7 linked regions of the Homo sapiens genome follow. The protein of the gene in region 5 purifies or fractionates together with the protein of the main gene of each other region. This does not show direct contact. Each region holds a gene or a part of one and is shown on either strand. Other genes may lie near its edges.

Region 1 (4,356 bases), on a different chromosome or scaffold from region 5:
AAGTTCGGGAAGCACTGGTGTATATCATGTGCTATGTACTATTCAAAATGCGTACAGAGGAGGGTAAGATGTAATTTGAACTCTGAAAGAGCTTATAACCTAAGCAAGAAACAAACGCACTTGTGCAAATCACTAAACTATAAAGTAGAACGTGATGGGTGCTGTTAAAGTTAGAAGAATTGAGCATTGTTAGTTGGGGACCTGAGGGAGGAGTGGGAATTTCCAAAGGAGATGGGGAAGAGGGCATTTCAGGTTGAAAGAATGGTGGGACCACGTATTCAGAAACAGTAGACAGCCCTGTGTGACTGGGGAAAAGATCATGTAGGGCAGAGACAGCTGAAACAAAGGCAGATTGTGACAGTCTTAAATACATGAGAAATTGTAGACCATAGAAAGTTGTAGGGGTTTTCAGGCAGAGTCTGACACAGTCAGAGGTGTATTATAGGAATATTATTTTGACAATACACGGTTTGTGCTGAAGAAAAACTACAGTAAAGGAAACTAGTTAGGAAGTGATTAAAATGGCCCAAGAAAGGGGTGGTGACGGGTAATGTCAAGGAGGGAGCAGATTTCAGTAGGACTATCAACTCACGATTAACTCCTCACTCTAAAATACCTGCTAAGTTGTCAGCTACCTTTTTCTGAACTCCTGAATCCACTAAGATTTGGGGTAAGTAGAACCAACTAGTGACACTGAATTTAGGTGGAGCACAAGGAAGAAAAATTTAAAAGGACTTCTGGGTAATTGGGAAAGTGATGCTGCTCTTACCAGAAAACTTATTTAAAAATATTTTAGCTCAAATAAGAGGACTGGAAATGCAAGTTAAGATTCTCTCCTTCCCCTATCGCCCATAAAAGAAAATCATACCGTAGGAATCATACTTATATTCAAGTATCCGATGATGCATTTTTGTTTCTGTTTTGCTGCCAAGGAAATTTCTCAGGATACCATGTATCTCCAGTATTGTAAAGTCTGCCAAGCATACAAGGCACCACGTTCACATCACTGCAGAAAGTGTAACAGGTACCTGTCTTTCTTGCTGTTCAGCGAGGACTGATCAACTAATTACTGATGTTTTCATTGTTGCTTATACTACATTAGTGCTACTTCTATTCACTGCAAGGTTACCATATTATAAACAATATTGTCAGAATACTTGTGTCCATAATCGCCATTTTATACTTAAATTATCTAGATAATAAATAGATTTAATTCTTCCTTGTTACAAGTGAAAAGATTTTCCAGAAAAATACAGATTTACTTTGCCTCTTGTCCTACAAGAACAAGGGAAAAAGGTATAAACCTTAAGTTTGTTTCCATATATCAAGATTAATTGTGTTAGTCAGCTGCCATCTGGACTAACTTTAGAATTGTTCTGAGTCTAAATTATAAGGGAGATCTGCTTTTCCCATTACTTATTGACAAACATTTACACTTTATACACATCTAATAATCCAGGTGCCTATTATCACAAATGTTTTAATATCAAAAACTTAGAAGAAAACTGACTATTAAAAATATGAAATAACCTGTGACCTTTTTTAATGAACAGCTATAATCACTGATTAGTAAGAAATTTAGAGAACCGTTGAAAGCAAATAAAGTTTTGTTTCAGGCCAAAACATTGTCTTCTATCAACAGTACACGGCAAGACTTTGTTTATTATACCATATCTTATATTCTGGAGTTAGCTTGCTTAGCTCAGAGATCCATTAACTAAAGGATACTATGAGAACAGGAAGGAAGTTACATGTGTCTATTTGAGCCCATTAACCCCACTGGAGGTCTATAAGGGATTTGTTGAGTCTCTATTGTAGGTCACTTGGGTCACTGCACTTACAAACTAGAAGAAAACCAGGAACCATGCTCATTTCTTTATAATGAGCATTATAAAGAGACCCTCTTTCAGTGGGTCTCCTGACTTCTTTAAACAAATACTTGTAGCTGACATCTTTTCCTCAGAAGCTGTTAGAAAGCCTGCCCTTTCCTGTGCTGTTTAGAATTTAAAAGGAGTCACTTAATTGTTTAAAAGCTCATAAAGATTTTTCTTTCTGTTCCATGAAGTATAATTCTCTCGTAGCTCATGGACATGCTGGATTCCTATTTGCTTGATCTTTTGAAGACCAAAGTTATTTAAAGTAGACAGGATTTTCTGCCTCATGTTTTATGTAAATTTTTCTTGTTAGATGTGTGATGAAGATGGACCATCACTGTCCTTGGATCAACAACTGTTGTGGTTACCAAAATCATGCTTCGTTCACACTGTTTCTCCTTTTAGCACCACTGGGTTGTATCCATGCTGCTTTCATTTTTGTGATGACTATGTACACACAGCTTTATCATCGGGTAAGTGAAAATGAAAATGTTTTGTTATAAAATCATCCATGCAAGATTAAATGGTAGTTATCAACATTTAAGAGGTTCCTTTTGGAAATATGCTTTCTGTGATTTAGTTGGGGAAATAGAACTTTGTTTTACTGGTATATGGGTTCCTTTTTAGAAAGCATTAAAACTTAAATTTTAAGATGAGGAAAGAGTATTTGTTCTGAAAACTTACATGCTGTAGTTGAAGGTGATAAATATTTTAGTACTGTATATGTAATTTGTTAGACTTCAAACTTAATAGTTATGGAAAGAATAGAAGAAAAAAAGACAACACTAGTGCTTCCTACTTTCATCCCATTCATGTGGCAAGTTGTAGTTCTTTGTTCATTTCTGATTCTAGTGCCCTGGAAGGTGGCTCATGGAGCAGATGCATACCATAAAATATAAACAGATTAAACCAGCAAGAGATCAAGTTGATTTATGGGCAAGTAGTCATGAGATAAAGTTCAAGGGACACAAACCTCCCTAAACAGGCCTTGAAAGTAAACGAGAGACACACCTGATGGGACTGCCAAACTGGAGAGTCTGTCCTTTGGGGAGGGGACAGCCCATATTTGATCTGCTAGCTTGTGGTGTTTGGAAATTCTAGCCCAGAAAAATCTGAAAATCTGGATTTTTATGTGAAATCTCTTGATTTTTAAATGTTGGCACCTAATTCTGAATGTTGAAACATTATGCAGGCCAGGCAGCACACATCTGTGGCCATATTTGGCCTGCATTTTATCAGTTCTTCATCACCATTTGTAAAACATGAGGGAAGAAACAACTGAATCCTAGGCAGCACTTGTCACTGTGGAAGAATACTGCGATGTAGAATAGCAAGAGAAGAGAAAAGACATAGTTCTGGTTTAGATTAGTGTCTAGTGTTGTTTATGTATGTTAATGTTGGTAAGGTCTCCTTGACACTTTCTGAGGAAACAACAACAACAAAAAGTAACATTTGAGAAAACTAAGAATGATATCCTGCACATCGGTCCGAGCTCATTACTATATTAATTAAAAATAGCTGGCCCAGCTCAGTGGCTCACGCCTGTAATCCTAGCACTTTGGGAGGCTGAGGCGGTGTGGGTCACAAGGTCAGGAGTTCAAGACCAGCCTGGCCAATCTGGTGACACCTGTCTCTACTAAAAATATAAAAAATAAGCCGGGTGTGATGGCACATGCCTGTAGTCCCAGCTACTCGGGAGGCTGAGGCAGGAGAATTGCTTGAACCTGGGAGGTGGAGGTTGCAGTGAGTCGAGATCGTGCCACTGCACTCCAGCCTGGGCGACAGAGTGAGACTCCGTCTCAAATAAATAAATAATAAATAAATAAAATAAAATAAAAATAGCTGTGTTTGCGTTGGCCACAGGGCCACGTTGTTATCTCTTTGATCAAGTTGTTTTACGTGTCACAGTAGAGTCTGACCAGTTACCATAACCAAACATTTTGTGCGTGTGCTATTGTTGCTGCGATAGCTCTCCTTTGGGTGGAACACAGTGAAGATCGACATGAGTGCAGCCCGGAGAGATCCTCTTCCAATTGTTCCATTTGGATTAGCTGCATTTGCTACCACCTTGTTTGCCTTGGGATTAGCTTTAGGAACAACCATAGCTGTTGGGATGTTGTTTTTTATCCAGGTAAGCATCTCAATTACCTCAAGTCAAAAGTGTCAAGTTGTTGGGACTGATTGCACAAGAAAGAGACAAAGCCTGTATTTAAGTGTCCAGTATGAAATGGAAATTATTTTTGCTTATTTCATTTAGGTAACTAATCTCCTTTGTATTCGTCAGATAATTTTGATTTAATTTTGCCAGAATTTCTAGGTATTGATTTAGTTTTTAAAATGCTAACTTCAAGTTAGGTAAGTTCTGGAGCACTTCAGAATTGAGAGAGCTCTTCTCACCTGTACAGTCTCTCTTGCTCTTCACATCCACCCCAATAGAGGAGTCTTACTGTTTTCCCTTCCCAACACGTGATTAATTCATTGA
Region 2 (4,900 bases), about 42 Mb from region 5:
TAGCTGGGGGTGGTGGCACGTGCATGTAGTTCCAGCTACTCTTGAGGCTGAGACACAGGAATTGCTTGAACCCAGAAGGCAGAGATTGCAGTGAGCTGAGATTGCACCACTGCACTGCAGCCTGGGTGACAGAGCGAGACCCTGTCTAAAAAAAAATAATAAAATAAAAAAATAAAAAATTGAGATATCACATGTAAAGTGCTTGGCACAGAGTTTATGCTCAAAAATATTAGTTGCTCCCTGTTTGGTACACAAAGGGCCCATCACAAATGCAGGTGACTGCTGCATGCGAATCTCTGCCCTACTTAACCATCTCCCCAGGAGTATGGGGGTCACCTCTGCTTAGGACCACCTTGGACTCCACCCACCAAGTTCTCCTACTTATGACGTTAGCTTATTTTTTCTTCCTTCTTCAAAAGAAAAGTTTTAAACATACACAAAAGAAGAGAGAACTATATGACAAACCCTTTACACCCATCACCAGCTAGTTTCAATTATCAAGCAAAACAACTAGTCTCGTGTCACCTATTCTCCCATCTCTTTTTTTCGTTGAATATATATATATGTATTTTTGAGATGGAGTCTCACTCTGTGGCCCAGGCTGGGATGTAGCGGAGTGATCTCGACTCACTGCAACCTCCGCCTCCCAGGTTCAAGCAATTCTCCTGCCTCAGTCCCCCCAAGTAGCTGGGATTACAGGCACACGCCACCACACCCGGCTAACTTTTGTATTTTTAGTAGAGACAGGGTTTCACCATGTTAGGGAGGCTGGTCTCGAACTCCTGACCTCAGGTGATCTGCCTGCCTCGGCCTCCCAAAGTGCTGGGATTACAGGTGTGAGCCACCCCGCCCGGCCACCCATGTGTGTCTTTAACAGATAGAGATGTTAAAGGACAAAACCACATTTTATCAGACCCAACAAAATTAAGAATGATTCATTAATACAATCTACTATGTAGTTCATATTTAACTTTTCCCAATTGTCTCAAAAACTTTTCTTTCCTGTTGATTTGTTTGAATCAGGTTTATCCAAAGGCCTGTGTTACATTCAATTGTAAGATCTCTTGGGTATTTTTCTATCAGCCTGCTTCAACATGTTCTGTTTTCAGAGGAAACGCTAGAATGAGGAAAGCATTACCCCTTGAAAGTCTCTCCAACTCACTTTCCTGAACCCTTTTCAATAACACAAAAACAAGCATCTCCTTTTTTTTTTTAGGTTTTTTTTTTTTTTTTCCCTCTGGAGGCAGGGCCCAGGCTGGAGTGCGGTGCAGTAGCTGGGACAAGAGGCATGCGACATTATGCCTGGCTAAATTTTGTATTTTTAGTAGAGATGGGTTTTGCCATGTTGCCCAGGCTGGTCTTGAACTCCTGGACTCAAGCAATCCATCCGGCCTCCCAAAGTGCTGGAATTACAGGTGTGAGCCACTGCGTCAGCCTGGGGGTGTTTTTAAATGATAAAAGGTGTTTCCCTTTCCAGAATCTTTAAAATAAATGGATTCCTCTAATAGCTTTCAAAATCCAACAATCATCCCAGTGAAGTCAAAAAGCAGGGTTTGTATTATTTCTTGTTTTAGAGGGTAAAAATTTCTGGGATTTTGTTCTTTTCAAAATGACTTTTTTATGCCCTCCCACCTGCTTTTTGAAATCCACCAACCACAATATTTACCCCATCCCCCTTTTCTCTCCCCCCCATCTCTCTCTCTCTCCTTTACACACTCCCTCTCTCTCTCTTTTTAGCAGCAACATACAAGCCGGCCATATTAGAGAGATGGAAATAAAGCTTCCTTAATGTTGTATATGTCTTTGAAGTACATCCGTGCATTTTTTTTTAGCATCCAACCATTCCTCCCTTGTAGTTCTCGCCCCCTCAAATCACCCTCTCCCGTAGCCCACCCGACTAACATCTCAGTCTCTGAAAATGCACAGAGATGCCTGGCTACCTCGCCCTGCCTTCAGCCTCACGGGGCTCAGTCTCTTTTTCTCTTTGGGTAAGTTAGACACATCTGCATGCTCCCGAGGGTTCAGAAGTGTAGCCGCAATGTGAAGAGGATGGGGGCAGGGGATAGGAAAGAAGACATTGCTAGCGCTTTCCCTCTGTGTCCTTGGGAGGGGAGGTGCTGGGGACTGGAAGGGACGTTGCTGGGGAGTGCAGAACCCTGGGACTACTTAGTCACAGAAATGTTGGGTCAGGGGATCTGAGTGTTGCTGGGGGCTGACAATTGTCAAGGGAGGTGAATCTTCTCTGGATTTCCCCTAAGTGGACCTACGTGGCGGTGGGGCAGAGAGTGGATTGACCTGCAGTCTCTTCAGGGATTATTTTTTGGAGTTGCTGCAAATGCGGGGTCCTGGGACTTAATGCTCCCTTAAGGGGCTTCTTTTCAGAAGCTTGATCCTGGTGGATTTAGGGTATTAGGAGAGTGTGCAGGGGAGCTGGTGGCAGAAAGTTGAGTCTGGGTCTGGCTTCTTGGCACTCGGTCTCACTGATCTGTTGGAACGTGTGTGGGAGTAGGTGGGAAGCGGGCTTGGGGAATGATGTCTGGGTTGGGAGGAGACCTGCTGAGGCACGCACTGATGGAGAAGGCACCTTTGGCTTGGGCCGGATGGAATGGAGGAAGGGCCAGGTGTAGAGATTCAGGAAAAAAATGGAACCCACAGGCTGAGCGAGGTTGCAGCCCTTTAAATCCAGCCTCAGAACTGCCCAGCCCAGTCTTGCAGACTGTCCTGTCAAGTGTTTGTATTTGACCACTCAGAGACTTCCTGGTGGGGAAGTGGGCTAGAAAGTTATTTGCAAGCCTGCTTTGTAGAGTTTCATTCTTGCTCCTAAACTTACTTATTGCTGGAGCAGCAACTGAGAGTCAAGTCCAAGGACTGTTGATGGAACTATTCCCCACCACAAAGGCTCTCTCTCTTTCTGTGGTGTGATGTGCTGGGTTTGGAGTAGGAGTGCTAAACACAGACAGTGCAGAGGCCCTGCCAGCCTGCTTTGCTGAGTTACTTGGCATATTAACATCAGAGCAGGAATGCTATGGAATCTCTGGCAGGACCTGGGTTTCAAGCCACCTTTGTCATTTACGTAATGATCACAGGCAAGTTACTCAACCCCTCTGAGCTTCAGTTCCCTCCCGGGTAAACTAAAGAATGCCTACTGCCTGACGTGTTTGTGATTTGGTGCATGGCAGGAACTCAACGATGGCTAACATAAGAATGCTTTTCGTGAGCCCAGGCACTGTGTATCTTGTTTAGCCCTCACAGCAATCGGAGGTAGATTCTATTATACTCAGGTTACAGGGAGGAAACAGATGACTATGGTAACGGGAGCTGAAATTTGAACTCCCTGTGTCTGACTTCAGCACATTCTCTTAAACGTTGGATTCCACTCCCCAATGTTCAAGAAATGGCACTGCTATATTAACAGTACCTAATTGATCAGAGTCTCAGGACAGGCTGAAAGAAGGGGAGTTGGGTGAGTGGCCTGTTGTAAGGAGGCCCAGCTGGAGGACAGGACCCTTTCCTCAGGAGTTAGGAAGCACTTCGTGCAGGAGAGAAGCCGCCTGGTGAGAGCCATGGCTAAGTAAAGATAGAAAGGGGGCTCAGTGACCAGGACCCAGAGCTCTGGGCTAGGGTGAGGAAGAGGGAGTCTGCGATGAAGAGGTCTGAGTGTTTGGGGTGGGGAGATGGTAGTGGGAGGAAGCTAAAGCTTCTGCAAAGCTGAGTGGGAGAGGATGCAGGAATGGGGACCTTGAACTTGAACTTGATTGGTGCTGTAATGAGGCATGTCCCTGGCACTCCAATGCTGAGGGCCGAGTTGACAGTGGAACTTTGGTGGTGTTGCAGTAGCATCGATCCCCAGGATGGAGGATGCCACAAGTGACGAGGGAGGGGACTCTGTCGGGGCTGGGCTTGTGGGGATGACTATGGAGGTGGCAAAGAGAAAGGGCAGGTGGGCAACCAGCTCTACCCACGGCAGAAGCATATGAGGCTAGTTTTAGCCAGAAACAATTCAAATGACTGGGCTTCCCTCAAGTTTTTCTTGAGACCGTTGACTCCACAGTCACTGGCCTGCTTACCAATGTATGGATTATGTTAGTGGAGGCATAGAAAGTGGAGTCTGGGCTGAGCATGGTGGCTCACGCCTGTATCCCAGTGCTTTGGGAGGCCGAGGTGGGAGGATCGCTTGAGGCCAGGAATTGGAGACCAGCCTGGACAACATAGCAAGACCCTGTCTCTACAAAAAAAAAAAAAAAAAAAAAAAAAAAAAGAAAAGAAAAATAAGCCAGGCATGGTGGCATGTACCTGTAGTCCTAACTGTTCCAGGAGGCTGAAGAAGGAGTATCAAGAGTTCCAGGCTGCAGTGAGCCGTGATCATGCCTCTGCACTCCAGCGTGGGCAGCAGAACCAAACCCTGTCTCTTAAAAAAAGAAAGAAAGAAAGAAAGAAAGAAAGTGAAGTCTAGTCCTCACTCTAGCCCACTGCACATATCTGCTGCTTGTGGTGGTGGGGACCCAGACATGGAGAGAAAGCTGTCTCTTCTTCCTTTAGTAGACTTTATTGAGTCCCCACTCTGCCACACACTGTCCTGGGTGCCAGGGATACCAAGATGAATAGGAGTCAGTTCCCCGGAGCCTCTAGAGGGAAACAGGCCCATGAACAAATAATAACAAGACAACATTGTATGTATGGCAACAATAATAGCAATAATGCTCATCATAGTCGCAGCTGACTTTTGTCCAGGCCATGTGCTAGGCACTGTGCTGAGCTTCATACAGGTAGTAAGTCATTTAATCCTTCGACAGCCCTATGAAGTTGGGCTTATTGTCCCCTATATTACAGATGAGGAAACTGAGGCACTGGGAGGTTAACTATCCTGCCATTCTGCCCTCAAGTCATGTGGAAGAGATAG
Region 3 (4,356 bases), on a different chromosome or scaffold from region 5:
AAAAACTTTGGTGTAGCCATTGAGTGAAATGGTTTATAATCACTAAAAATTACGAAATAGGTGTCTTGATGAATACAGTAACAGCTATATGGAAAAATACTTCTGATCTAATATTAAGTAAAAACAATATAAAAGTTATGAATGCCATTACTAAAGGATAATAAAAGTTTAGCTAGATAAGAATTATAAGAAAAAGGGGAGAAATTAAAAATCATTTTTACAAGTTGATACTTACCTGAAATAGTTACATTCTACAGCTTTTTTTTTTTTTTTGAGACGGAGTTTCACTCTTGTTGCCCAGGCTGGAGTGCAATGGCGTGATCTTGGCTCACTGCAACCTCTGCCTCCTGGGTTCAAGCAATTCTCCTGCCTCAGCCTCCCGAGTAGCTGGGATTACAGGCATGTGCTACCATGCCTGGCTAATTTTGTATTTTTAGTAGAGATGGGGTTTCTCCATGTTGGTCAGGCTGATCTCAAACTCCCAACCTCAGGTGATCCACCCACCTCGGCCTCCCAAAGTGCTGGGATTACAGGCATGAGCCACCACACCCAGCCCAGGCCTTACTTTCAAAACAACTGTTTACCATGCCTCACAAGACCCTTACGTTGACTTCCACTACTCTTTCAACTCTGCCCGCCTCCCTCATCTCCAAAGGATCCATTCAAAGACTTCTACTTCTAGATCTTCACATACTCTTTTCGTTGGTTTGGGAACACTTTTCACTCTAATCCAACCCCTCTGTATGGTGAATGTCCCTTTTTTTTTTTTTGAGACACTGGAGTGCAGTGGCACTATCTCAGCTCACTGCAACCTCTGACTCCCTGGTTCAAGCGATTCTCCTGCCTCAGCCTCCCAAGTAGCTGGGATTACAGGCATGTGCCACCACACCCAGCTAATTTTTGTATTTTAGTAGAGATGGGGTTTCACCATGTTGGCCAGGCTGGTCTTGAATTCCTGACCTCGTGATCCACCCACCTCAGCCTCTCAAAATGCTGGGATTAGAGGCCTGAGCCACCACGCCCAGCTATGAATGCCTATTTTCATCCTTGAGGTTTCAATTTTATATGTCACATTCTCAAATCCTTCTCTGACCTAAGTCTGAGTAGGTACACTGCAATACACTCCCATATGCATGACATGTACTGTATACCATAATGCTATATACTCCCACATACACGATGTTTATTGGGTCATAGACTGCAAGCTTCATGAAAGCAGGACTGTAAGTTTTCTACCTTAAATCTGTGTCTTATAGTATAAGGCTTCTCAACATCAACAACACCGACATTTTACACCAGACAATTTTTTTGTTGTGGGGGCTGTCCTGTGTGCTGTGGAATATTAAGCAGCATCCCTGGCCTCCATTCACTAGATGCCAGTGGCACCCCCTCAGCTATGACACCAAAAATGTCACCAGACATTTTTACACCCCTCTACTCTAGTCCAATTTACCACTACCATGCATTAATGCATAATTTCTAATCGGTATTTTGGCTTCTCTTGTCCCTTTTATACAATCTCTTCTCCATACAGCAACTAAGAGAGATCCTTTGGAAAAAAGAACAAATCACTCTTGTACTCAAAATCTTCCAATGAATTCCCACAAGTCAAAGTCCAAAGTCCTCACATGATATGCCTCCTACAAACCTCTTAATTTTCCTCTAGTTTTCTACTGGCTTATTCTAACCCAGCTGCACTCACTAAGAACATTCCCTCCTAGTCTTTGCTGTTGTCATTGCCTGGAATGTTCTTCCCTCAGATATTCTCTCTCCAAGCACGGCTGCTCAAACATCCTTCCTCACAGAGACATTTCTAACCAATATTCCTTGTTGCTCTCTACTTACTCTATTTTATTTCTCTATTAAAAAAAAATAGGTTTTTACTAGAATACAAATTCTATGAGATTTCTTTTTCTGCTATATCCTCAGTGACACATGTTCAATAAACACTGAGTAAACCTGTATGTAGAAAGCAATCATTAAATATATAATTCATCAATTCAGGTGAACTACTATTCCCTGTTTATTTTAATATTATTCCTTTCCCACCTGACCAGTCATCATTAAAAGCATACACACAGATTTACCAAGTACACCAGAATGTATTTACCACAAAATTTAATGTCATATTACATGATTTAAAACCCCAGAAGAAACATAATGCTCCTGAAGAACACTGCTTTACAAATAAAAAGTTACTTTTTTTTTTTTCTTAAAGACATGTTCTTACTCTGTGGCCCAGGCTGGAGTGCAGTGGTGCCATCATAGCTCACTGTAACACCAAACTCCTGGACTCAAGTGATCCTCCTGCTTCAGTCTTCAAGTAGCTGGAACTACAGGTGTGCACCACCATGCTCAGCTAATCTTTAAAACTTTTTTGTAGCTCTATGATGCCGAGGCTGGTCTTGAACTCCTAGTCTCAAGCAATCCTTCTGCCTCGGCATCCCAAGAATTATAGGTGTAAGCTACTGTGAAGTTACATTTTAAGTACCAACTTAAATTGATTTGTAGTGGCTGCCTAGCTAACAATTTTGTCTCCTGATTAATAATAACTATTTGCTACAGGCCCTAGAGATCATATTACATATTTGTTATCTCTCCTATATAATATATACTTTAGAAAGTTACTAACTATGCAGAAGAAAATTAATATTAAATTATTAACTCATGTTAAACTGAATTGACCACACCTTTAAGAAATTAAAATGTGGCTATTACAGAAGTTAAGAGTTCATATAAAGTTACAGTTTGCTGAGGACTTACGTGCTAGGCACCATAATAGGTGCTTAACAAACATAATTCTCATTTATTTTGACAAAAACTCTTTGCTTGGACCAAACCTTCAGCAAGACTCTTGAGTTCTTTCTGACTAGGAGAACTTTAGGCTCCCTCTCTGTCCTTGTAGAAACCAGGCTGAATGAGAATCCTGCTCAGTCAGTTTACTGAAAACCCCCACACACTTGATATAGGACCACTCTGGATATTTTAGCCTGGCCTGCCATGCTATCAAGTCAGTTTAGCCAGAAACCCCTTATGTTGATGCTTCCTCTTAGTAATAATTTTCCATCCACTGACACTCCCTTCAAGCACTCAGCTCCTTAGTTATAAATTCCACTTATCTTTATGGGACCCCAAGTTGAGTTTAATTTCTTTCTGCCACTGCAAGATTCTATCATAGTGGTCCCTATATCTACTGCCATGCCCCCCCCACCCCCGAAAAAATATCTGCCTTACCATCTTTAACAAGTGTCATCAATAAGCTTTTTTTGTAACAATTTATTTAAGAAAAAAAAAAACTCTATGGGGTCGGGCGCAGTGGCTCACGCCTGTAATCCCAGCACTTTGGGAGGCCGAGGCGGGCAGATCACGAGGTCACGAGATTGAGCTAATACAGTGAAACCCCATCTCTACTAAAAATACAAAAAATTAGCCAGGCATGGTGGCGGGCATCTGTAGTCCCAGCTACTTCGGAGGCTGAGGCAGAAGAATGGTGTGAACCCGGGCAGCTAAGCTTGCAGTGAGCCGAGATCGCGCCACTGCATTCCAGCCTGGGTGACAGTGCGAGACTCTGTCTCAAAAAACAAAAAACTCTATGGTTGGTGTTTTTATCTTTAGTTTCCAATAAAGAAACTGGTGCCTTGAGGGGTTAAGCAAGTTGGATAAGTTCACATAACAGCCAGCTGACCAAACTAGAGAGCTCTTCCTAAAATAAAAACTACCCAGTTTCTTTATGAATGAGGAAGAAGGAAACTAAGAGAATTCCTCCCACCTTCTGATAAACTATAGTCAGCAATCTGCAACCCCAATATACTACAATTTATCATTAAATATTAACTCCTATAAAAACAGCTCCTCTTAATGATATTATCAATAGGAATATGACCGCATCTGACATAATCTTCAATGTGTTCTTACATGTTTCTCACGTTTTCATCACCCTCAAAGCAGGACTCATTGAAACTCAAAAGCATTGAGACCTAAAAACAAGATTAATTTAGGGCTGAGGAAATTGTAGGTGCAAAAAAAACTTTAAGCACATTGTTTAGGGTGCATAGCTAGATAGTTGTAGAGACAGAAAAGATAAATCCCCATTCTCCAAATTTGCAAAAGACTCTCTTCTTGGTTTTATACTTTTAATTGTAATTACATATTAGAAATCACACATCTTCACACTTCAAAACTCTCACCAATTACTGTGGCCTACTATATACAAAATGACCAAATTCAACAAAGCTATTATACTATATACAAAATGGCCAAATTCAACGAACTATTATACCATCATCGTAAGTTATATCATTCAAATGTATTTTCTCCAAAAAAAAAAAAAAGAATCAAAACATAAAAGTGTTAGGA
Region 4 (3,925 bases), on a different chromosome or scaffold from region 5:
ACCCTCAGCCATCCACAACCCTGCACAAAGACCTCCTGGAATGCTCCAACCTTGTTCCCTGTGAGGCCCAGCCAAGGGCCATCTTGTCTAAGGGGCAGGATTTGGTTCCCATTAGAGAAGGCACAGCTTTGCCAGGCTGGCAAATTGGCAAACTCAAATCTAGGGCCTGGAGGGTAATCTGGGAACTTGAAGATGAGATTTGGAAACCGTCTGCTGGGTTCTAGGAGCTCGTCTGGGAATGTTTGGGGTGGGGTCAGCATTCGCCTTTGTCTTCCCCAACACTTCAGCTTCAACAAAGAAACTCCAGAGAAAACACCAGCAACGGCAGACTCAGCTGTCAGACGAAAAAGCTCCTTCTCCCGCCTCGTGCTCCCGCCCTCCCGCTGCCCACTCGCCCTCCCACCCGCTCACCACCCTCCTCCCGCCCCCGCTCACCACCCTCCCGCCCACTCGCCACCCTCAGTGCCACCCAGCCCATTCTCAGTTCTGAGAGCCATTCTGGGCTGCGGCTCGCAGGCTAGGAGTGACGCGGTGGGGTCCCATCTGTGCCGAGCGAGCGGCAGGTGCGGGGGACAGAATGGCGGAGGCCTGAAGGCCCTCGGGCTGCAGGGAAGGCTCTGGGCGGGAGCGCCACGGCCACTGTCCCCACGGTGGGCACTGTCCCCGCTGCTCCTCTGCCTGCCTCCAGCCTCCACCAGCTCCTCCCCTCTGAGGCCGCACGGGTGGCCGACATGCTCGGACCAGGACTTGCTTCCAGGAGAGGTTTCCAATTCAGCGCTTGGCCAACCGTGAAGGCCCTGGTCCTCCAGGGGCCGCAAGTCACTCACCTTTTCTCCTTTCAGTCCAAAGGCACCGGGGTCTCCCTTGGGGCCAGGGGGTCCTTGAATGCCCTGGAGAAAAGAGGGCAGCATGACACCACCGGCAGAGGCCACCGCGGCCTCTGGCAGCAGCCCCAGACCGCCCAGACAGAAGTCAAAACGGTCCACACGAGGTGCTGCTGACAGCGCTAGTTTTAAAGTATCAGTGAGAGGAAGTGACTTACGTCAAACCCGGGCGAGCCCTTGCAGCCTGGCAGGCCTGGGTACCCCATCTCCCCCTGGAAAGAGGAAGAAAACTAGAAAATCTGACGGCCAAGTGGGTAAACTGAGGCCAATCAACTGTCAGACTTGGTGCCCTCCATGCCCTCCACACCCTCCCTGGAAAGCCCTGCCTAGCAGACACCCCCCTGGGGTCACCTTCACACCGTCCACCCCACTCCTCCCTGTCCCTCCTGCCGGGATCACCTCACCCCATCCCTCCCCGTCCCTCCCCGTCCTTCCCCTGGTCACCTTCACACTGTCCACCCCATCCCTCCCCGGGTCACCTTCACGCCGTCCACTCCGTCCCTCCCCATCTCGCCCCATTCCTCCTCGTCCCTCCCCGTCCATCCTATCTCCCCCCAGTCACCTTCACGCCGTCCACCCCGTCGATGCCACGCTTGCCCTTCTCTCCCTGTGAGGCGGGAAAACGAAGGCAGGAGTCAGATGCAGGTCAGACATGCTGCCGTGGGGGCAGAACTCCCCCCTCCCAGCAGCCCACGCTCACCTTGTAGCCCTTGGGTCCCCTGGAGCCCTGCGGAGACAGGAAGCGGGTGTGAGGGGGTATTTGGGGTGGGGAGGGCAGGGCAAGCCTGGCTTAGGCCCACGCGAGGCAGGGGCTTGGGTGCCCCCAACCCGAGGGGACAACATCACTGCTGAGAATCATGGGGACTGACAGTGATGGGGAGGGGCCGCTCTGCAGAGGGTAACCGCCCGGGGGACCCCCGGCTCCGCAGAGGGTAACCGCCCGGGGGACCCCCGGCTCCGCAGAGGGTAACCGCCCGGGGGACCCCTGCTCTGGGGTGGGGTGAAAGTGACACAGGCGCCTTTGCTGGGTGCCTGGGTGGCTGTCCTTGTCCTTCCAGATGGAGGGGACGGCGAGGGGCGGTGGAGCGGGTCTGCAGGACACGTGGTCTCCTGTCAGGGACACTGTCCTCATCCCCGGGGACACCCTCGTCCAGGATGGCACATCTGCGCCTGGAGAGACCAGCTCCGAGGTCGAGCCTCACTCACCTTCTCCCCACGGCTCCCTTTTTCTCCCTACACACCCAGCGGAAGAAGAGGAAGAGGAAGGCTTGTTAGTGCTGTGCAAGGCTGAGGGCACCACCGGGCTCGGGCCAGGAAAGGGGGGGCACGTACCTTCATTCCCTGGTACCCAACAGGTCCGAGGTCCCCGGGTCTTCCCTGGAACACAGGAGGAGATGGTGAGACACCCCCGGAGGAGCAGGGGCAGGGGCCAGTCCCACCCAGCCCCACACCCCTCCCTCCAGCCCAGGCCTGGTCAGGCCGAGAGAGGGGCCCTGCTGCACGGGGCCCATGGTGCCGAGGCCCTCCAAGGTGGAGCTGGGGGAGGGAAGTCTATGGATAGGATTTGGGCCAAGGAGCCACGGCAGGGGCCCCGGACGGTGCCGGCCTGAGCACCCTGGGCCACCTCCCCACCCAGCCCCTCCCTGGCAGGGGGGCTTACGGGCTGCCTGGGGGGCTGTGTGGAAGGATGGCTGGGCTGTGGCCCCTCCAGGTCTGCTCCCACCCACAAGGAACAGGCAGTGTGACTTTGGCACTCAGAACCCAGCCACTCTTCCGGAAGTTTCCGAGGCCTAGTCGTTCCCCGCCTCCAGCTTCTTAGGGCCCCCACCCCACAGTCAGGCACTCACAGGATCTCCGGCTTCTCCCTTCTCTCCTGGGAGCCCCGGCTTGCCTCGTTCTCCCTGGAACACAAAACAGGTCAAGGTTGGGGCAGCCCCGTTTCTTTCTAAAAAGCTGGCTCACGAAACAGGTTTTTAAAAAGACGCTTCATCCAGCCTTCAGGGATCAAGGGCTTTAAAGCACCTTCCCCATCACATCTGGTCAGCCTGGGTCTGGGAGCTCCAACCCGCACGCCAGCTCCCCCCACTCCCTGCCTTCGTTCCTGTCTGCTCGGCTTTGCTGACCCCCAGGCACAGGTGGGAGGGACGTGCAGCACAGAAGCCCCCCAGGGTCACAGCTCGACCCCCAGGAAATGGCCATGGGACTCGGGCCCACAGCTGCTGGGTTTGATGGTTTTTAGGAGAAGCCAGAAATCTGAGGTCCATGAGCAGCCTCATGGCAAGTTTTAATTATCAGCAGCTAATTCTAACGTTTAAGGTCATCCTATGTGAGCCACACAGAAGCAGGGGACCCACATTCTCACCCTCCTACCTCCAGAAAGGTCCTTCTGAACAGAGTGCGGCTGAGGGCAGGGCGGACAGAGACACCCTCAGAAGCCCCCAGCGCCCCCGGGACAGTCCACACCCTGCACGGCCGGAGCCTGCCTGCTGGACCCCGCCGTCCCTTCCATCTGGACCCCGACATCCCCTCCATCTGGACCCCGCCGTCCCCTCCATCTGGAGCCCCGACGTCCCCTCCATCTGGACCCCGCCGTCCCCTCCATCTGGACCACGCCGTCCCCTCCATCTGGACTCCCGCCGTCCCCTCCATCTGGACCCCGCCGTCCCCTCCATCTGGACCCCGCCGTCCCCTCCATCTGGACCCCGCCGTCCCCTCCATCTGGACCCCGCCGTCCCCTCCATCTGGACCCCGCCGTCCCCTCCATCTGGACCCCCGCCGTCCCCTCCATCTGGAGCCCCGACGTCCCCTCCATCTGGACCCCGCCGTCCCCTCCATCTGGACCACGCCGTCCCCTCCATCTGGACTCCCGCCGTCCCCTCCATCTGGAGCCCCGACGTCCCCTCCATCTGGACCCCGCCGTCCCCTCCATCTGGACCCCGCCGTCCCCTCCATCTGGACCCCGCCGTCCCCTCCATCTGGACTCCCGCCGTCCCCTCCATCTGGAGCCCCGACGTCCCCTCCATCTGGACCCCGCCGTCCCC
Region 5 (4,356 bases):
GCCACGGAGGGCTTGGTGCTGTGCTCACTGGAAGCTCAGGGGCTCTGGGAGGACTGGAGGACATAGTCCAGACTTGGGGAACCAAAGAAGGCCTCTTGGCCCATCTAAGCTGGGACCCCAAGGATGAGGAGGTCTTTAGCAGAAGAGGAGAGGGGAGAAAGTGAAGGTTTGGGGCAGTGAAAATCTGCTCAGGGAACTGAAGGAAATATGAGGTGTCCAGAACCCAGAATGTGAGAGGGGACACCGGGGAAGCAGGCTGGAGAGCAGAGCTGGCCAGGCAGGGCATGCTCCCCAGTGGCCTGGAAGGCCCTGCCGGAGGGGTTTTCACTCAGTTCTGAATATGCTAACTTTCTAACGGGCGGTGGCGTTCTGCTTTTTAAACAGCAGAACAAAGTTTCCTGTGAAAGCACAACCTGTAATGCAGGTGAGAGCAGAGCAGCTGCAGGGGCAGCGCCTGTGGCCCTGAGGGGAGCCAGGGAATAGGGTTTACCGGGTCCGGCTGTGGTCTGTGCGCCTTCAAGAGAGATGGGATTCAGAGCAGCCATCTTCGTCCATAGCTCATCACTAGCGGGTTCCAACAGTCAAAGACACTGCCCTCAAATGCCCTGTGAATGCCTTTTCTCCTGCAGCATCCTTCAGAATCGCGGTTCAGCACTCACTGAGGGAGCACCCACTGTGGGAGGCCTGGGAGTGTGGATTTGAAGGGCACAGACCCAGGAGCCAGACTCACCTGGGCCGGTGGCTTGTTCACCGTGTGACCTCGGGCATAGTACCTAAGCTCTCTGAGACTTCTTTTTCCCTTCTGTAAAATGATGATGGAACCAAGTCATTGAATTTTTGTGAGGATGGAATGAGTTCATGCCTAGAAAGTGCTGAGGAGAGGGCCTACTGCATAATGGAGGCTCTGTAGGTGGCATCTCGTTTGATTCTCAACAAAAACTTGGCATGGCTGCCATTAACCTCAAATGAGGAGACTGAGGCTCAGAGAGGTGAAGCGACTTGTAAGATCACACAGCAGAAAGGTAGAGGAGACAAGAGGGAGCAGTCAGATGTGGGTGACTGTGCGCCTGGTGCTCTTGGAAGGCTTTCTGTGTCCCTCTTTAAGACTCTCTGTCTGTATCACCGTCACTGTCACTTCTTTTTCGTGTTCATTTGTTTTTTGAGTTCCCAGTTCCCAGCACAGAGCCAGACATGAGGAGGTATTCAGTAAAGGTGTGAATGAATGAATGAAATTCATGGGTGGATTTGTACATCCCTAGCACTTGGCTGATGTCCTTAGTGAGGGAGTGAGTGAGCCTCCAGCAGCACTGGGATTTAACCCTGCTAAGGGCCTGTGCGGTCCCCTTAGCCCCACCCCTGGCTGCTCTTAGAGGGAAGGGCTGGCCCAGGAGGCCGGAGTGTGGCTTCAGTGAAAGTACAGGGCCTGCCAGGCTGCTCCTGGGGAAGTCCGCAGAGCAGTGCCGGGGCAGCCAGGCCTCCTGTGGGACTTCCTGCCAAGGCCCGGGCCCAGCCCTTGAACAATGGCAAGGGCTCGAGAATCAGAGAATCAAAAGGAAAAGGGCAAAATAAAGGTGGGGGAGTGGGCAGAAAACGAGGAATTGCATGTGGGGACTGAAGAGCTGGTACGGAGGACTTGTGTGGCCTGGGTGGAAATGTAGTCAGAGGCCCACCCTCCAAACCCCCTCTACATCTCCATGCCCCCAGTCCCTGGCCCTGAGCATGGCCTAGGGTAACCCTTAGGGTCTGTCAGCCTTCTGTGCATCCCCTCCAGGCTGTCTTCCGCCAGGTGGGGTCTCTTGAAAACCCCCGTCTGACCAAGTCACCTGCCGCTTAAAACTCTTGCTTCCCCTGGGTAATGGGCGGCTCCTTGGCCTGGGTGAGAGGCCTACTATGATGGGCTGCAGGCCCATTTCCCACCTGGCTCTCTGCCCTGCTCAAAGCATCTTTATTCCAGCTCCAGCCGTGCTCTGGGGTTCCCTGAGGGCAGGCACAGAATGGGTGGGAGTGGGGGCTGGCAGTGGGAAGGAGCCAGTGGGCTTACAGTGTTCCCCTTTCCTCTCCGCCTTACACAGAGCCATGAGACCCCAGATCCTGCTGCTCCTGGCCCTGCTGACCCTAGGCCTGGCTGCACAACACCAAGACAAAGTGCCCTGTAAGATGGTAAGATGCTCTGCCCAGACAGGGTGAGGACCACCCCCACCTCCCTGCCCTAGGGTGTGCTAGTGCCCCAGCCCCAGAAGCCAGAAGTTAGAAGAGTCAGGAGAGGAAAGGGAATGTACCTTGCATTTAATGAGCACCTACTAGAATGTTTAAACACCTTATTTACCCACAGTCCTGCCAGGTAAGCACCATTATTCTCATTTTGCAAAGGAGGAGACTGAGGCTTGGAGAGATTGGGCCTTGTCCAAGGTCATTCAGCTGGGAACAGTGAGGCTGATATTACACTGTATTCCCCCAAGCTGTCCCCACAGAGCAGTAGGCCCAGCTAGGGGATCTAGAATATATATATATGTGTGGGGAATTTGGGGTAGGCCAGCTGGGAGGGGCTCCTCTGTGCTCATCCCTCTTGGAGACAAATCCCCTTCCAAGCTGGGCTCCTTGACTTGGGACTGCCCGCTGGAGTGCCTCTCACTTCTTAGTGCCCAGATCAAATGCTGCCATCTCCAGGAAGCCTCCCCAGCCCCTCCCAGGCTGGCCTAGTCTGATCACACCTTCCTCTGGGTTCCTGCGGTCCCCAGGCTTCCCCCTATCTCAATACTGAGAAGACTGAACATGTGGGGTGGTTGGTGAAAGGGTCCAAGCCTGTCTCACCTGCCAGACCATGAACTTCCCTAGGGCAAGGACCAAGTTTGATTTGCTTCTATTCCTTTTTCCTGTCCCAAGCCAGGGAAACTAGCCCTAAAGTTCTTGTGACTCTATGAGATACAGGGCAAAGAGAACACCTAGATCCACTTGTAAGGCCGGGCAGTCACTGAGGCCAGAGCCTGGCTGGGGAAAGGGCAGGGCCTCCGGAAGCCCCTCTTGGACCTGAGACTCGAAGAAGCTTATGACACAGAACCGGCAGCTGCTTCAGGAGGCAGGAAGTGCAGGCAGCTGCCTGCCCGCAGCCCTTCCCTGGGGGTGCAATGTCTCCTGTTGCCACCACCTTTCTTGCTCTTCAGAGCCCTTCTAAGATTCCCGGAGCCCAGAATTGCGGGCAGAGAAGGCCTCAGATGTCACCAAATACAAACGCACATTCTACCTCAGGGAGACGAGGCTCAGAGGGGAAAGTCCTTGACTACCCAACAGGCAGAGGGGAAGCGGGTGAATTTTGGAGTCTGGGGAAATGAGATAAGAGATAGGAAAGCACTTTCTGAACCAGCATGGGAATAATACACACGGGAAGTAAGGAGAAGATGTGTGACCCACCAGGGACCTACAGGATTCGAACCCAGCTGCCTTTGCCACTGTTCACTGCCTGGTGCCTCTCCCTACTCTGCTTTCCTCCCATGATCAGGTGGTGAAATGGAGTTGGATGGCAAGTCTTTGCTTCTGAAAAGGAAGCTGGGCAGTGGGTGTCCTGATAGCCCAGGACAGTGGGTGGGAGCTCTAAACTCTGGTCAAGGGCCAATTCCTCCAATTCCCTCCGACGGTAAGTCAGGCAATGCTGGGAGCTCAGAGCTGAAGGAGGCATGAAGACCCTGGAAGTGGAGCTCTGAGCACCGCCCTGGACTTCAAGCTTCTTCCTGGACTGGACTGGAGATCTGGGCATCCCAGTGCAGCCCTGCCCACCATCAGGCCCCCAGGCTTCTAGAGCAGGGGTCTTGGGCCCCTGAATGGAAAGCCAGTCTTGGGCTGTGGGCTTGGCAAACTTTGTGTCCTGGATCAAGTCTCAGGGGCTGGTGCCCCAGGGAGCCTTTGCCTATCCAGAGGCAGTATGCCTCTGCACTTGCCCGGGGGTAACACGCGGGGCACAGCACGGTGCCCCCCACACTGTAACAGTCAGTAAGTGGGTCCATGATGCTCTTTGCTGTGCTGACCAGCTGAGGGCCCAGTGGTCAGAACTTGGCTGGCACCAATAGGAAAAGGAATTTGCAAATGGGAGTTTTGAGCCCCTGACTGTCTGATCTTGGGCAGCCCACTCCCCTTAGCCTCAGTTTCGTTAGGGGTACAATAGGAACAGGGTGAACAATGCCTGGGAAGATTTAATGGGGTAGGGGGTCTCTGCACTCAGCACGCAGCCTGACACAGCTGGGGCTCCATCACAGGTCATTTTGTTGTTTCTGCTTTAAGTAAGGAATGCCCCAGGGGGTAAGGGCTGTGAGGAGGAGGCTATGTTTAGTGGCCCCTGCAGACAGAGAGGTTGTGAGGGAGGAA
Region 6 (4,356 bases), on a different chromosome or scaffold from region 5:
TTAATTCTTAAATCTTTTGTGCATTGTCTTTTTAAATCTTTTTGGGAGGTTTTTTTGTTTGTTTGTTTTTTGTTTTAATTGGGTTGTCTGTTTTACTCAGGGATTTCTAGCAGTATGGCCAATATCTTCTCTGTGCTTGGAGCATTACTCTCTTCTGGGATGGCAACTTTTATCTTCATGTAGGTCTTATAGGCTGTCATTGTTCTTTGAATTGTATACGTAGTTTAAACTCCAGATAACAAGTTCTATGCTTGTGCTATTCATTGCAGTAGCTACTAGCTGCGTGTGGCTTTTGAGCACTTGAAATGTGGCTAGTATGACTGAGGAACTGAATTTTTAGTTTTATTTAGTGTTCAATTAAGTTTAAAAACTGACACTTGATTCAGTTACTGTAAAACCTGTATGTTTGGAACAACTCGGATACATAAACCTTTCTTAACCGCAAATTATTAAATTATTATTTTTTAATTTTTGGAGATTTTTTCCCCCCTGGAGATGGAGTCTCGCTCTGTTGCCCAGGCTGGAGTCCAGTGGCATGATCTTGGCTCACTGCAACCTCCGCCTCCCAAGTTCAAGTGATTCTCCTGCCTCAGCCTCCCTAGTAGCTGGGATTACAAGCATGTGCCACCACACCTGGCTAATGTTTTTATTTCTAGTAGAGGCAAAGTTTCACCATTTTGGCTAGGCTGGTCTCAAACTCCTGACCTCAAGTGATCCACCCACCTTGGGCTTCCAAAGTGATGGGATCACAGACGTGAGCCACTGCACCCGGCATTAGCTGCAAATTATATAAAAATATAGATCAAGTATTTTATATGGCAGTTTTAATTTAGCATCTGCATTGTAATGTTGTATAAACACCATATTTCAAAGACAGTATGAAAACAATGTAAAATACCTCAGCTTTTCATTATGATTACATGTTGAAATTATAATTGATTTCACCTTGTTTTCTTTTAGTGTGAACAATAGAAAATTTTAAATTACTTATGTCACTTTTACTGTATTGCTGCTGGACAGTACTTTGAGCTAGATGTTCCTATGTGTTTACCATGTCTTAATTTCTTCCTGCGTCTCTGACTTTTCTTTTGGAATCTTTTAACTTTTACTTTAGCACACTCAGTAGAAGTTTCATAATGCAGACATTCTGATGGTCAGTTCTCTTAATTTTTTTGCTTTGTCTTAATTTTTTGTTTTGCCTTCAATCTTGAAGAATGTTTTGGGGGATATTACAGATTTGTGGTTGTTTTACTTGTACCTTGAAGATAACATTTCACTGTTTTTGGTTTTCATTATTGATTTTGAGAAATCAGCTGTCAATGCATTAGGTTGGTACAAAAGAAATTGTGGTTTGGGACAGCGAATTTTAAATCATTATAACGAGGCTCTAACATATCTTTATTAATTAAAATAGGTCATTACAATCAACACATTTTTGCCGACAAGAAATAAGTTTGTTTTTTCCTGTAATGTAAAAATCCATGCTTCAGGATTCCACAAACTCTTGGAAAGCTTTTTCCTGCATCCTGCTGGTTGTGGAAGCATTTTCCCTGAAAAAAGTTGTAGAGATGCTTGAAGGAGTGGTAGTCAGTTGAGAGGTCAGGTGAATATGGCAGATGAGGCAAAACTTTGTAGCCCAGTTCGTTCAACTTTTGAAGTGTTGGTTGTGCAGTGTGCGGTTGGGTGTTACTGTGGAGAATTGGGCCCTTTCTGTTGACCCATGCTGGCTGCAGGCATCACAGTTTTAAGTGCATCTCATTGATTTGCTGAGCATACTTCTCAGATGTAATGGTTTCTCCAGGATTCAGAAAGCTGTAGTGGATCAGACCGGCAGCAGACCAGCAAACAGTTACCATGGCCTTTTTTGGTGCAAGTTTGGCTTTGGGAAGTGCTTTGGAGCTTCTTCGCGGTCCAGCCACTGAGCTGGTCATTGCTTGTCATATAAAATCTAGTTTTTGTTGCACCTCACAGTCCGATTGAGAAATGGTTCGTTGTTGTGGAGAATAAGAGAAGACAACACTTCAAAACGGTGTTTTTTTAAATTTTTGCTCAGCTGGTGAGGCACCCACTTATCGAGCTTTTTCACCTTTTCAATTTGCTTCAAATACTGAACAACTGTGGAATGGTTGACGTTGAGTTCTTACGTTGAGTTCTTCAGCAACTTCTCATGTAATTGTAAGAGGATCAATCTGCTTCAATGATTGCTCTCAATTGGTTGTTGTCAACTTCCAGTGGCCTGCCACTACACTCCTCATCCTCAAGGCTCTGGTATCTTTTGCAAAACTTCTTGAACCACCACTGCACTGTACGTTCATTAGCAGTTCCTGGGCCAAATGCATTGTTGATATTGCAAGTTGTCTCTGCTGTTTTACGACCCACTTTGAACTTAAATAAGAAAATCACTCAACTTTGCTTTTTGTCTAGCATCATTTCCATAGTCCAAAATAAATATAAACAGCAAGTAATAAGTCATTAGCCAAAAAAAAAAAGCAAGAAATGCCCATTAAAATGACATATAACATAACCACATTTATTTAAGAATGTATTCCAGGCCGGGTGTGGTGGCTCACACCTGTAATCCCAGCACTTTGGGAGGCTGAGGTGGGCGGATCACGAGGTCAGGAGATCGATACCATCCTGGCTAACATGGTGAGACCCTGTCTCTACTAAAAATACAAAAAATTAGCCAGGCGTGGTGGCGGGTGCCTGTAGTCCCAGCTACTCAGAAGGCTGAGGCAGGAGAATGGTGTGAACCCTGGAGGCAGAGCTTGCAGTGAGCCGAGATCGCGCCACTGCAGCCCAGCCTGGGCAACAGAGAGAGACTCCATCTCAAAAAAAAAAAAAAAAAAAAAAAAATTCCAATATCAAATGGCAAATTCCAACAATGCAAAAACCACAATTAATTTTGTACCAACCTAATAATTCATGCTGCTTTGAAGGAAATCTCTCTTTTAGAATTTTTTTTTGTTTGTTTCTTTTTTTGGTTGTAATTTTTCTGCTGTTTCACTCTAATCTTTTTGTGTGGAATTCTTTTCTTCTTTTTTTTTTTTCTCCTAGTCAAGTGTGGTTGTGGGGGTAGAGGAAATGTTCAATCATCGTGTGGCATTCTTTATCTTGCCCTGTATTCATCGAGATTATTAGATCAATGCATCAGTATCTTTTTAAAGATATTGGTGATATTCTTACTGTTTCTGGTTACCTGCTGAAAATTACAATCTTGCTTTTATTGGCCTAGTATAGTTGCTCCTTAGTATCTGCTGGAAATTGGTTTCAGAACCCCGTGCAGATACCACAATCCACAGGCAGCTCAAATTCCTTATATAACATGCCATCATGTTTGCATACGGCCTACACACATCCTCCCACGTATTTTAAATAATCTCTAGATTGCTTATGGTACCTAATACAATGTAGATGCTATGTAAATATTGTTATACTGTCATGGCTTTTTAAAAATTTCTATTATTTTTTATAGTCGTGTTTTTAAAAATATACATGTATTTTTAATCCTTGGTTGAGTGAATCTGTGGCTATGAAGGGCCGACTATATTCATAGTTCATTTGTTGTTTGTTGAAGATAATTCCAGTTTCTAAATTTTCTAAGTCTGTGTCTGCTAGCTTATGATATTTTTTTCTTGTGTGCCTTGAGTACCAGTTGTATTTAAAAAATTATAGGAATATATGAGTCCTAGAATAATAGTATCTTTTTTAAGAAGGTACATTTTTCTAGGAAAGGTCTCTAGGAGTGCTTTCAGTCCCAAGTCACTATTCATGTTCAAGAGTTGGGATTCCTTCTGTTATACACATGACATTAAGGAAGACTTTAAGATCATGAATTCTATTTTCCTTCAATTTCCTCTTATCCTAATGATGTTGTCCTTAAACTCTGAACATAAATTGGGTAGTTTATCTGAGTCCCCAGCTTTGTTAGGCAATGTGCTTTTATTTTTATTTTTGATTTTGATTTTTTGTGTTTATTTTTATTTTAAATGAGGTCTCGCTGTATTGCACACAATCATCCTGAATTCCTGGGCTCAAGCTATCCTCCTGCCTTGGCCTGTCAAAGGATAGGATTACAGGCATGAGCCACCACACCTGGCCTTGTGCTTTGATTTTTTTACCATAGACCGGCACATCTTCCATTAGCTCAGCCTTTTTTCTCAGCCTTTTCTTCTAGACAGGAAAATGTCCTCAGAACAAAAGTTACTTGGTGTATGGTTTGTTTCTGGTTTACCTTCACATGGAATTTGGTAAGTAATTTCACATTACTTTATTTCATTCATTATTTAGTTTTTTTGTTGGCGTCAGCAGAAAGGTTGGTCCTGTCTGCCACTACCATAAATAAAACCCTAATTG
Region 7 (4,152 bases), on a different chromosome or scaffold from region 5:
CTTTCAACAAGTATTGAGCAGCTACTTTGTGCCCAGCACTATTCTGGGTACTGGGGATTCATGGGGAGGAAGATAGGCTTATATTGAATATATAGGACAAAAAATAGTTATAGAATATGCTGAAAAGAATTGATAAGTGCTCAGAAACAAAAATAAAGTTAGGGGAAAGGGGAGAGATGGGGACCGGAGCTGTGGGTACAGGAAGAGAAAAGTGAAGAGAAAAAAATCTTCATGGACCTGCAACATCGGCGTGGCCCAGGAGCTTGTTTCAAAGCCCCACACCCTCAGACCTGCAGAATCAGAGGCAAGGCCCAAGAGTCTATGTTTTAACGGGCCTCCATGGTGACTCTGACCGACACTCAAGGTTGAGAACCACTGGGATGCAGAATACTGGGATGGGGACAGGATACCATGACCATTTTAGAGTGGGCAGTAAGCTAGGTGTGGTGGCTAACACCTATAATCCCAGCACTTTGGGAGGCCGAGGCGGGAGGATCGGTTGAGCCCAGGAGTTCAAGACCTGCCTGGGCAACATAGTGAGACCTATCTCTACAAAAAAAAAAAATACAAAAATTAGCCAGGCATGGTGGTGTGTGCCTGTAGTCCCAGCTACTTGGGAGGCTGAAGCATGAGAATTGCTTGAACCTGGGAGGTGGAGGTTGCAGTGAGCTGAGATCATGCCACTGCACTCCAGCCCGGGCAACACAGCGAGACTCTTTGTCTCAAAAAAAAAAAAAGAGTGGGCGGTCAAGGAAGGCCTCACTAAGGAGGTGATCTGACAAAGGAGCAAGCTAGAGAAAAGCACAGTTCCCAGCCAGAGGGAACAGGAAGTGCAAAGTGGCTGCAGGGTGGTGAGGGGACACCCAGGAGCTGAGGCAGGAGGAGGAAGAGGCTGGGGAGGGCATGCTGGCTCTTTGGATTTTGTTCTAAGAACAGGGGAAACCATTAGAGGGTCTTCACCTGGAGGCTGGCATAGCTTGGTTTACCTGTAAGAAGAGACCCCCCGGCTGCCCTGGGGAGACTGGGATGTGCAGAGGGGAGGCAGGGAGACGAGCAAGGAGGCTGCTGTGCTTCCCAGGGAGGTACCAGGTAGCTCAGACCAGTGGGAAGTGGAGTTAGGCAAGAAGCAGGAGGCCTCCCAAGGGGCGGTGATCAGCCAGGCTGCTTTTCCTTCAGGTTCCTTTAGCAAATTTGTGAATGTGATATCAGCCAGGACGGCCATTGGCCACGACCGGAAAGGGCAGCTGGTGCTCTTTCATGCAGACGGCCAAACGGAGCAGCGTGGGTGAGTCCTGGGAGCTGAGGCCCCCCGGCCGGGGCTCAGTCCTGCTAGGAGGAACGTTGACCCAATGACAGCCACCCTCTGACTCTACCTGCTTTCTGGGATGTTGACACCTATCTGTCCCCCCTCCCAGGGCCCCCTCACCTTCCCACAGGATGAGGGTTCTGAGATCTTTGCCGATTCCAAGAACTCATCATCTTCAGCTTTAGGCCTCACCTTTCCTGAACCCTAGATAGGATACAAGGAAATGGTCACAAAGTGAGCAGGGAGAAGATCTTGGTTCCAATCCCAGCTTAGCCATCGATGACTTGTCTACCCACCTATGCCGTAGACAAGTCCCTCGGCCTCCCTGAGCCTCATTTCTAGCCCCTGTAAAGAGAGTGTTTTGGTTTGCTCTGGTTGCATAACCAGCACAAATTTAGCAACACTCAGCAGGGAATGTTCTTTTGTTTGTTTGTTTCTTTGAGACAGGGTCTTACTCCGTCGCCCAGGCCAGAGTGCAGTGGTGCAATCTCAGCTCACTGCAACCTCTACCTCTCAGGTTCAGGTGATCCTCCCACCTTAGCCTCCCAGGTAACTGGGATTACGGGCACCCGCCACCACACCCAGCTAATTTTTGTATTTTTAGTAGAGATGGGGTTTCATCATGTTGGCCAGGCTGGTCTCGAACTCCTGACCTCAGGTGATCCATCTACCTCGGCCTTCCAAAGTGCTGGAATTAACAGGCGTGAGTCACCGCACCTGGCTAATTTTTGTATTTTTAGTAGACACAGGGTTTCATCATGTTGGCCAGGCTGGTCAACTTGGAATGTTCTATGTTCAGGGTGTCCCATGGACAAAACCAAGATGCTGGTTAGGCAGGGCTCTTCTCTTATCTGGAAAGAATCCTCTTGTTTAGGTTGTTGGAAGAATCCCCGTCGCCTCCTCAGTTGTGACTGAGGTCTTGGTTTCCCTGCTGGCCGCCATCTGGGGCCTCAGCTCCTTCAAGCTGCCCAGGTTCCTTCCCATGTGTGTCCTCTCCCCCAGTTGTCCGGCCACCCTCTCATCCCCCTCGTATTTCAAATCTCACTTCCTATTCTGTCACCAGCCAGAGAAGGCTCTCTGTGTTGAACACTCCTGTGATTCCAGTGGCTGCACCCAGATCCTCCGGGCCGTTTCCCCTCCCTTAAGGATTCCTATGCCATGTAACAGCACAGGCATGGGTGTGATCTCACGTGTTCACAGCTTCCGGGGGCTAGGATGAGACATGCTTGGGGGCGGGGGCCACTTAGAAATGTGCCTGCACTGTGGGCGTGATGCTCTGCACTGTGGAAGGAAAAGGAGTTAAATGAGAAATGATGGTGGGCGCTGAGCCTGAGCAGCGCCGCTTTGTGCCGCAGCATCAACCTGTGGGAAATGGCGGAGTTCCTGCTGAAACAGGACGTGGTCAACGCCATCAACCTGGATGGGGGTGGCTCTGCCACCTTTGTGCTCAACGGGACCTTGGCCAGTTACCCGTCAGATCACTGGTAAGCACGTGAGAGCCGCCTTCGTGAGGGCTGAAGTCCAGGTCTGCCCCAGCCTGTCTCATTCAGCCAATATTGAGTGCCTGCTATGTGCCAGGCCCCGGGGGTTCAAGAGAGCAGAAATTGCTGCAGTCCCTCCCCCAGGATGCCAGTACTACCCAGGCCTAGGAGCAGGGTCAGTTGGTCAGCAAAGACCTCCCTGAGGATGACAGAATAAGAACTGAGATCTGAAGGAGGTGGTAGCTGGGTGGGGGTGGGAGAGCCTTCCGGGCAGAGGGCACCACATGTGAAAGGCCCAGGGCTGGGAGGGATTGTAGGGAGCGGAGGAACCTATAAAAGACTGGAGAGGGCTGGGCACAGGGGCTCACGCCTGGAATCCCAGTGCTTTGGGAGGCCGAGGTGGGAGGTTCGCTTGGGCCCAGGAGTTTAAGACCAGTGTGGGCAACATAGACCCTGTCTTTATGAAAAAATAAAAAAAAATTAGGCAGGCGTGATGGTGCACACCTTACGGTTACAGCTGCTCAGGAGGCTCGGGTGGAAGGATCGCAATACCTCATCTCAAAAATAGATAGACGCCATCTTGTAGGTAGGTAGGTAGACAGGTGAGAATGGAGAGAGGGGTGGTTGGGGGCAGCCTGGAGGGAGTTGAGGGGCCGTCTGGGGGTGTCCTCTCCTCACACATCACATCCCTCTACAGCCAGGACAACATGTGGCGCTGTCCCCGCCAAGTGTCCACCGTGGTGTGTGTGCACGAACCCCGCTGCCAGCCGCCTGACTGCCACGGCCACGGGACCTGCGTGGACGGGCACTGCCAATGCACCGGGCACTTCTGGCGGGGTCCCGGCTGTGATGAGCTGGACTGTGGCCCCTCTAACTGCAGCCAGCACGGACTGTGCACGGAGAGTGAGTGGGGGTTCTGGGGAGGGGGCTCTGCCCAGCCCTGCCTTGCCCTAGGCCCTCACCTGGCCTCCCCGGTCTTGTCTCGGCAGCCGGCTGCCGCTGTGATGCCGGATGGACCGGGTCCAACTGCAGTGAAGGTAGGAGCTGCCACGCCACTAGCGGATGGGGAGACGGTGGCCCCCGGCAGCCCCCACTGCTCCTCTGCTGCTTCTGTCTCCACCTTCTGGTCTGGGAAATGCTTGCCTCTTGTCTTCTGCCCCGGCCTCACCTGCACATCACTGTGTGACTCCCCTGTGGCTGCTGCGGCCCGTTCCACAAAGGGCTCGGCTAAAACAAGGGTCCCCGGGCTCTGGCTCCAGGGCCCACCTCAAATCCAGCACGGTCTTATCTTGAGATCCTAACTGCAGTGCCTCTGTAGAGATTCTGCTTCCAAATAAGGTCACGTTCAGGGGCTAGTCCAGGGAG

What was found.
Region 1: the proteins of LRRC32 (region 5) and ZDHHC6 purify together in Homo sapiens (co-immunoprecipitation; 3 studies listed by BioGRID and IntAct, with this or other methods). This does not show direct contact.
Region 2: the proteins of LRRC32 (region 5) and SCN2B purify together in Homo sapiens (co-immunoprecipitation; one large-scale study listed by IntAct). This does not show direct contact.
Region 3: the proteins of LRRC32 (region 5) and PPM1B purify together in Homo sapiens (co-immunoprecipitation; 2 studies listed by BioGRID and IntAct, with this or other methods). This does not show direct contact.
Region 4: the proteins of LRRC32 (region 5) and COL6A1 purify together in Homo sapiens (co-immunoprecipitation; one large-scale study listed by IntAct). This does not show direct contact.
Region 6: the proteins of LRRC32 (region 5) and ORC4 purify together in Homo sapiens (co-immunoprecipitation; one large-scale study listed by IntAct). This does not show direct contact.
Region 7: the proteins of LRRC32 (region 5) and NAGPA purify together in Homo sapiens (affinity purification with mass spectrometry; one large-scale study listed by BioGRID and IntAct). This does not show direct contact.

What each region holds. Positions count from the first base shown.
Region 1 is NC_000010.11:112,440,183-112,444,538, reverse strand, and holds part of ZDHHC6 (palmitoyltransferase ZDHHC6), read left to right. Parts: intron 1-932; coding exon 933-1,024; intron 1,025-2,187; coding exon 2,188-2,347; intron 2,348-3,843; coding exon 3,844-4,005; intron 4,006-4,356. UniProt on the Homo sapiens protein: Endoplasmic reticulum palmitoyl acyltransferase that mediates palmitoylation of proteins such as AMFR, CALX, ITPR1 and TFRC.
Region 2 is NC_000011.10:118,173,450-118,178,349, reverse strand, and holds the start of SCN2B (sodium channel regulatory subunit beta-2 precursor), read left to right. Parts: upstream 1-1,710; 5' UTR 1,711-1,918; coding exon 1,919-1,988; intron 1,989-4,900. UniProt on the Homo sapiens protein: Regulatory subunit of multiple voltage-gated sodium (Nav) channels directly mediating the depolarization of excitable membranes.
Region 3 is NC_000002.12:44,213,317-44,217,672, reverse strand, and holds part of PPM1B (protein phosphatase 1B), read right to left. Parts: intron 3,978-4,356; coding exon of another isoform or gene 3,952-3,977; exon of another isoform or gene 3,916-3,951; intron 1-3,915.
Region 4 is NC_000021.9:45,987,944-45,991,868, reverse strand, and holds part of COL6A1 (collagen alpha-1(VI) chain precursor), read right to left. Parts: intron 2,786-3,925; coding exon 2,732-2,785; intron 2,262-2,731; coding exon 2,217-2,261; intron 2,118-2,216; coding exon 2,091-2,117; intron 1,612-2,090; coding exon 1,585-1,611; intron 1,492-1,584; coding exon 1,447-1,491; intron 1,097-1,446; coding exon 1,043-1,096; intron 891-1,042; coding exon 828-890; intron 1-827. UniProt on the Homo sapiens protein: Collagen VI acts as a cell-binding protein.
Region 5 is NC_000011.10:76,663,675-76,668,030, reverse strand, and holds part of LRRC32 (transforming growth factor beta activator LRRC32 isoform a precursor), read left to right. Parts: intron 1-2,072; 5' UTR 2,073-2,076; coding exon 2,077-2,160; exon of another isoform or gene 2,161-2,165; coding exon of another isoform or gene 2,166-2,183; intron 2,184-4,164; exon of another isoform or gene 4,165-4,356.
Region 6 is NC_000002.12:148,013,808-148,018,163, reverse strand, and holds part of ORC4 (origin recognition complex subunit 4), read left to right. Parts: intron 1-4,356. UniProt on the Homo sapiens protein: Component of the origin recognition complex (ORC) that binds origins of replication. DNA-binding is ATP-dependent. The specific DNA sequences that define origins of replication have not been identified yet.
Region 7 is NC_000016.10:5,027,518-5,031,669, reverse strand, and holds part of NAGPA (N-acetylglucosamine-1-phosphodiester alpha-N-acetylglucosaminidase precursor), read left to right. Parts: intron 1-1,176; coding exon 1,177-1,285; intron 1,286-2,661; coding exon 2,662-2,790; intron 2,791-3,484; coding exon 3,485-3,690; intron 3,691-3,776; coding exon 3,777-3,824; intron 3,825-4,152. UniProt on the Homo sapiens protein: Catalyzes the second step in the formation of the mannose 6-phosphate targeting signal on lysosomal enzyme oligosaccharides by removing GlcNAc residues from GlcNAc-alpha-P-mannose moieties, which are formed in the first step.